Linked DNA regions of Homo sapiens. The protein of the gene in region 1 interacts with the protein of each later gene in a biochemical or structural test. Each region holds a gene or a part of one and is shown in the gene's direction. Other genes may lie near its edges.

Region 1 (4,038 bases):
CGCCTCCCGGGTTCAAGCGATTCTCCTGCCTCAGCCTCCCGAGTAGCCGGGATTACAGGCATGCGCCACCACGCCCAGCTAATTTTGTATTTTTAGTAGAGACAGGTTTCTCCATGTTGGTCAGGCTGGTCTTGAACTCCCGACCTCAGGTGATCCACCTGCCTCAGCCTCCCAAAATGCTGGGATTACAGGCGTGAGCCACTGCACCAGGCCGAATTATATCATTTTAATTATACCTAAAACTTCAAATTTTATAGTTCAGACCTATGAAAGAGATAGCTAAGTTTTGGAAACTCTTGCAAACTAATTTTTTTATATTAGTGCGTGTTTAATGTAAATTAAAAACAAAATTGCCACCTATCTCATAGAAGAAGCTGAAATTACCAACGGGAATGCTGTAGCACAAGCTCCAGTAACAAAAGGTTGCTACTTAGCCACTGGAAGCAAAGATCAAACCATTCGAATCTGGAGCTGTTCTAGAGGCCGAGGTAAGATTGATCTTTCTTTTGTGATGTAACCTATGTTGATCTGGTGGAAGTAGAGGGTTTTCTGTTCTTATTGTCCTGAGGGTGTGTCATCTATTTGAGAGCAGTTCTTCACTTTTTGGTCTAGAATTCTGCTTCCTCATTTGAGCCTGGCCTAGACTCTCTATTCTCTCAACATCTGGCCTTAGAGATTAGTATTTCCCATGCATTCCAGGAGAAGACAAGGATCTCTTGCTTTATAGAAGGGTCAGTGTTTGGCATGGAGAGCAGAATATTTGTAATAAAAACAGGAATATTAGAACATGATATGGCCTAAGCCAGGAGAATGGAAAATATCTTAAGAGTTAGAGCTTTTAATGCACAAATGCAGAATAAATTACATACACCCAGCATAGAATTATGTGTAAAAGCTCATTTTATCCAAATTATAGAGCCCCTCAATCATTTAGCTTTCCCAAATGTCTCTTTGAACAGAACTTTTATCTTTAAGTTTAAAAATTGAGAGAAACTCTAGGCATAATGAATATTTATAGTATATCATAGAATATAACCTTTATAGTAAAAATCTTGTTTTTCTCTTTCTAGCGGGCTTCTCTTCTTTCTTCATTTTATTTTATTTTTTTTGGCAGTTTTTTAAGCTGTGGTGGAAAATATAACATTTGCCATCTTTATCACTTTTAAGTGTACATTTAAGTGGTATGAAGTACACTCTAAAGTTGTGCAACTGTCACAGCCACCCATCTCCAGAATTCTACTCTCCATTTCCCCCTCCCCCAGGCCCTGGCAACCATCATTCTGCTTTCAGCTCTATGATTTTGACTACTCTGAGTATTTCCTTTGAGTGAAGTTATACATATGATATGTCTTTTTGTGATTGGCTTATTTCACTTAGCATATATCCCCGAGGTTCATTGATGTTGGTACCGTATGTCAGCATATCCTTCCTTTCTAAGGCTGAATAATATTCCATTGTGTGTATGTCCCACATTTTACTTACCCACTCATCCACTTGTTATAAATAAAATTTCGGTGTGGCAAAAGAAATAGCACTCAAATATAAAACTTTCTTTTTAATTCTCAGCAAGGCAATGTACTTCTATAGAAGGGTGCGCCCTTACAGATGGAGCAATGGTGAGCGCACACTTGGACAACGGAGGGGAGGGGTTCTTATCCCTGACGCATGTGGCCCCTGCTGCTGTGTCGTTCCCCTATCAGCTAGGGTTAGACCGCACAGGCTAAACTAATTCTGATTCGCTGATTTAAAGAGAGTGCCGGGGTAAGTGGTTTGATGGGAGAAAATGGTTATGGCAGGAAAAATGGTTATGGCAGAGCAGGAAATCAGAATGAGTCAGGGTGGAGCAGGTAATCGGAATGAGTCAGGATGGAGCAGGTAATCGAAAAAGGTTGCTTTTACGAGGAAGTTAAGTTTAAAAACAGAAGCCAAATAATTGAACATACTGACATATTGATTCTTTGAAGAGAAATTTAGAACTCATATCTCACACACTGATGGACATTTGGGTTGCTTCCATGTTTTACTATTCTAAATAATATGCTATGAGCATGGATGTACTTTCTACTTTATTTGAAACCATGATAGTTTTATCATATTTGCCCAAATGCATGTAAAGCAAGTAGCACAGCACTTGGAATGTCATCCAGGCTTCATCAGTGGTAGGTAACTAATAGTATAATTTGGGAAGACAGAACTTTTTTAAGGTTTACAGGCTACTTCTTGGCATACTGCAGCTAAAACTCCAAGTGGGAACATAAGGCTGAGGATCCCTCCAGGAGGGTAACCTCTAGACTTAGAGGTGTCTGGTAAAATGGCCTTCAATTGTGGTTGTGCAGCAGAATCAGCTGGAGAGTCTTTGGAAAAATGTAGGTTCTTGTACCCCACCTCAGATCTACTGAGTCCGAATCTCTAGGAGTTAGGCCCTGGCGTATGTATTTTTTAAAGTTCCACCTGTGGTTCCGATGCACAATACAGCTTAAAAAACGGTGATTAGAAGCATGTCGGGTGGAGGTACTCCCCACCCACAGCACGTTCACTGCCAAATTTTTCTTTGTTGGATTTCTTGCCGACTAGAAATAGTAATCCCAACCTCTGTCCTTTTCACTTTGGAGTTATGTCACTGCAATACTTTTGGGTACACAACTCAGCTGTGTTACTAGCTGGGTTCTCAGTTTTACTTGGGAACTCATTTTCCCAGACGAAAAAATACTCTTTTTCTTTTGAGGCAGAGTCTCTCTCTGTCGCCCAGGCTGGAGTGCAGTGGCACGATCTCAGCTCACTGCAAGCTCCACCTCCTGGGTTCATGCCATTCTCCTGCCTCAGCCTCCCGAGTAGCTGGGACTACAGGTGCCTGCCACCACGCCCGGCTAATTTTTTTGTATTTTTAGTAGAGACAGGGTTTCACCATGTTAGCCAGGATGGTCTCGATCTCCTGACCTCGTGATCCTCCCGCCTCGGCCTCTCAAAGTGCTGGGATTACAGGCATGAGCCACCGCGCCCGGCCAAAAAAAAAAAATACTCTTAATACGTTGAGGTTGTCAAGATAGCCTGTCGAAGCTTGTTTGACCTAAATGTAGCTAGACTAGTATTAACCAGTATTTATAGTGATTAAAATTATAACCATAATAATGGTTAAAATTGTAACCATTGGAAAATGAGATCTGAATTCTAAGTAGCCAAACTAACAAGCTTTTACAGCGCAGACTGTGTGTTATGAACCACCGGTGACTTCATGCATGTAGTTTCACTGTCTTGAGTGCCCACTGGCCTTCTTTTTAATCTGCAGGGGTGATGATTTTGAAATTGCCCTTTCTGAAGAGAAGAGGAGGGGGTATAGACCCAACTGTTAAAGAGCGCCTTTGGTTGACACTCCATTGGCCCAGCAATCAACCAACACAGCTGGTATCTAGCTGTTTTGGGTAAGTCTTTTTTGGTCATGCTTTCTCAGATATATTTTGTTTTTCTATTTGGCCTCAAGTCCTCCTAGGATGGAGAAAGTAATGGCCAAGGCTTGTATTATGATGGGCCATTTGAAATGGAAAAATTATGAGACTAATGCCTGTGCTATCTACTAACAGAGCTGTAAAAAGATCACATAAGTATAGTCCGGCAGTTAGGAATATGGACTCTGAAGTCAGAACTAAATTTCAGAATCACTTTGTCACTTACTGCCTTGTATTCCTGAGCAAGACCCTTTACTTTTCTGAGCTTCAGTCACTTCAAGTGTAGAAAGGGGAGATGGTTATAATATTTTCTCTTAGGTTGGATGGCTATGCCCATTCAGTAAACAAAGTTCATTGACTACCTACTTCTAGTGGCTGGAGATAAATCTGTTTAAAGGGTAGTCCAATATACTCACATGGTTCAAGAAGAACGAAAGTATATAATAAACTGTCTTTCTGTCTTCCCTAGCTACTTGGTTCCCCTTTCTGTGATTAAATTTTTTTTTTTTTTTGAAACAGGGTCTTGCTCTGTCACCCAGGCTGGAGTGCAGTGGTGCAAACACAGCTCACTGCAGCCTCAACCTCCTGGGCTCAA
Region 2 (2,679 bases), on another chromosome or scaffold:
TGTTCACTGTTGATTTAGTAATAATTATAGTATCATAATAAATAACAATATAATAATATAGTAATGCTCCTGTAATTTAGTAATAACATACCTGACTCGCTCTCAAATATTTTAAAAGTAATTAACCAAGAATATCGCAAAAATGAAGAGTAAATTGTGCTGAAAGGAAAAGGGTGTATAATTAATTTCCTATTTTATTCTCAAGTCTATGTTTTTTAATATAAAGACTAATAACCCTAAATTTTTAAATGTATTTCTTGTGAGTAAAAGTTAATGACTACTTTTTTCTTCTTCTTTTTTTTTTTCTTCTAGGAGGGTATACAAGGAAAGGTTAGGACTTCCTCCAAAGATAGTGATTGGTTATCAGTCCCACGCAGACACAGCTACTAAGAGCGGCTCCACCACTAAAAATAGGTTTGTTGTTTAAGAAGACACCTTCTGAGTATTCTCATAGGAGACTGCGTCAAGCAATCGAGATTTGGGAGCTGAACCAAAGCCTCTTCAAAAAGCAGAGTGGACTGCATTTAAATTTGATTTCCATCTTAATGTTACTCAGATATAAGAGAAGTCTCATTCGCCTTTGTCTTGTACTTCTGTGTTCATTTTTTTTTTTTTTTTTGGCTAGAGTTTCCACTATCCCAATCAAAGAATTACAGTACACATCCCCAGAATCCATAAATGTGTTCCTGGCCCACTCTGTAATAGTTCAGTAGAATTACCATTAATTACATACAGATTTTACCTATCCACAATAGTCAGAAAACAACTTGGCATTTCTATACTTTACAGGAAAAAAAATTCTGTTGTTCCATTTTATGCAGAAGCATATTTTGCTGGTTTGAAAGATTATGATGCATACAGTTTTCTAGCAATTTTCTTTGTTTCTTTTTACAGCATTGTCTTTGCTGTACTCTTGCTGATGGCTGCTAGATTTTAATTTATTTGTTTCCCTACTTGATAATATTAGTGATTCTGATTTCAGTTTTTCATTTGTTTTGCTTTTGTTTTTTTCCTCATGTAACATTGGTGAAGGATCCAGGAATATGACACAAAGGTGGAATAAACATTAATTTTGTGCATTCTTTGGTAATTTTTTTTGTTTTTTGTAACTACAAAGCTTTGCTACAAATTTATGCATTTCATTCAAATCAGTGATCTATGTTTGTGTGATTTCCTAAACATAATTGTGGATTATAAAAAATGTAACATCATAATTACATTCCTAACTAGAATTAGTATGTCTGTTTTTGTATCTTTATGCTGTATTTTAACACTTTGTATTACTTAGGTTATTTTGCTTTGGTTAAAAATGGCTCAAGTAGAAAAGCAGTCCCATTCATATTAAGACAGTGTACAAAACTGTAAATAAAATGTGTACAGTGAATTGTCTTTTAGACAACTAGATTTGTCCTTTTATTTCTCCATCTTTATAGAAGGAATTTGTACTTCTTATTGCAAGGCAGTCTCTATATTATGTCTTCTTTTGTGGTGTCTTCCATGTGAACAGCATAAGTTTGGAGCACTAGTTTGATTATTATGTTTATTACAATTTTTAATAAATTGAATAGGTAGTATCATATATATGGAATTAAATTGATGTGGCTATCTTTGTTTTTTTATAAAGTAAGGCACAGTCATTCAGTCTTAGGTAAATAATGTACTCTCTTAATATGTTAATACTCATGAGAATTGGGATCTGATGCATCACCATTTGATTGGTAGCAACAGTGGTTGTAAAACTTGGTTGCTGAATTGAGTTGTTTCTATGTTAAGTGTCAAAATGATAGTGTAGGGAAAGTACAGGTGGTGGGGACATATGCATTAAGAATCTTGTTAGTGTTGCAATCTAAATAGAATGGAATAAACAGGTGTTAAGACATATTTATAGTGGTAAATTGTTGTAGTATGGTATTCTGTAAACTTGAAAACTTGATCTACTCTTTGTAGGTATCATTTGAAAGCAAACTTGAAAATGTTTTGTACATAGTACATACTTGTATAGTCCTGTGAGATGAAGTATGGCTATCAGACCAAAGGATAAGCCAAACTGTAGGTAGCAGAATGGAAATTATTATTTTGAGAGGAAAATTTGTCTTTGAATGGTGATTATGACTTAATCATTTTAAAACTGATAAACTTGACAAAAACCCTGTATGAAATAAACATGAAATTAATAGCACTGATTTCATTGTAAAATTTTAAAGCAGTTTAAAGGGTACCACAGGTTATCACAGTACTCTCAATGCCACAAACACCTCTTGTTCAGTATTCTAGAAATACTGAATCAGAATTCTGTGTTTATTATAATCTCAGCATACTGTACATAATATCTGCTAGTTAAACTTGGGTAATTGGTTAAGGTGACTTACTGTCTATGTCAATATGTATAGTTTTGAGTACTTCAAGAGTTTACTTAAAAGTGATGATGTTACTGGTATGTTGGCAGTGGGTGGGACTGAAGTAGTGTATCTATTATAAATTGATCTATTTTCTTAATTCTAAGATGAAGTCCAATTTTAAGCATCAGCTTTTAGGTGCAAAGGAGGAATTAACACATTAAATGTATACAGTTCTAAATTTTTGAAATAACTGATGTGTAGCATTTGATTATTGGTATTACCATTTTAGAATCATGATGTTATTTTAAACCTTTTTCCTGGGGACAAGAAAGGATAATAA

What was found.
Region 2: the proteins of GEMIN5 (region 1) and EIF4E form a complex in vitro, tested with the Homo sapiens proteins (one study listed by BioGRID and IntAct).

The regions. Positions count from the first base shown.
Region 1 is NC_000005.10:154,927,908-154,931,945, reverse strand, and holds part of GEMIN5 (gem-associated protein 5), read left to right. Parts: intron 1-368; coding exon 369-488; intron 489-3,286; coding exon 3,287-3,419; intron 3,420-4,038. UniProt on the Homo sapiens protein: The SMN complex catalyzes the assembly of small nuclear ribonucleoproteins (snRNPs), the building blocks of the spliceosome, and thereby plays an important role in the splicing of cellular pre-mRNAs.
Region 2 is NC_000004.12:98,878,776-98,881,454, reverse strand, and holds the end of EIF4E (eukaryotic translation initiation factor 4E), read left to right. Parts: intron 1-312; coding exon 313-427; 3' UTR 428-2,179; downstream 2,180-2,679. UniProt on the Homo sapiens protein: Acts in the cytoplasm to initiate and regulate protein synthesis and is required in the nucleus for export of a subset of mRNAs from the nucleus to the cytoplasm which promotes processes such as RNA capping, processing and splicing.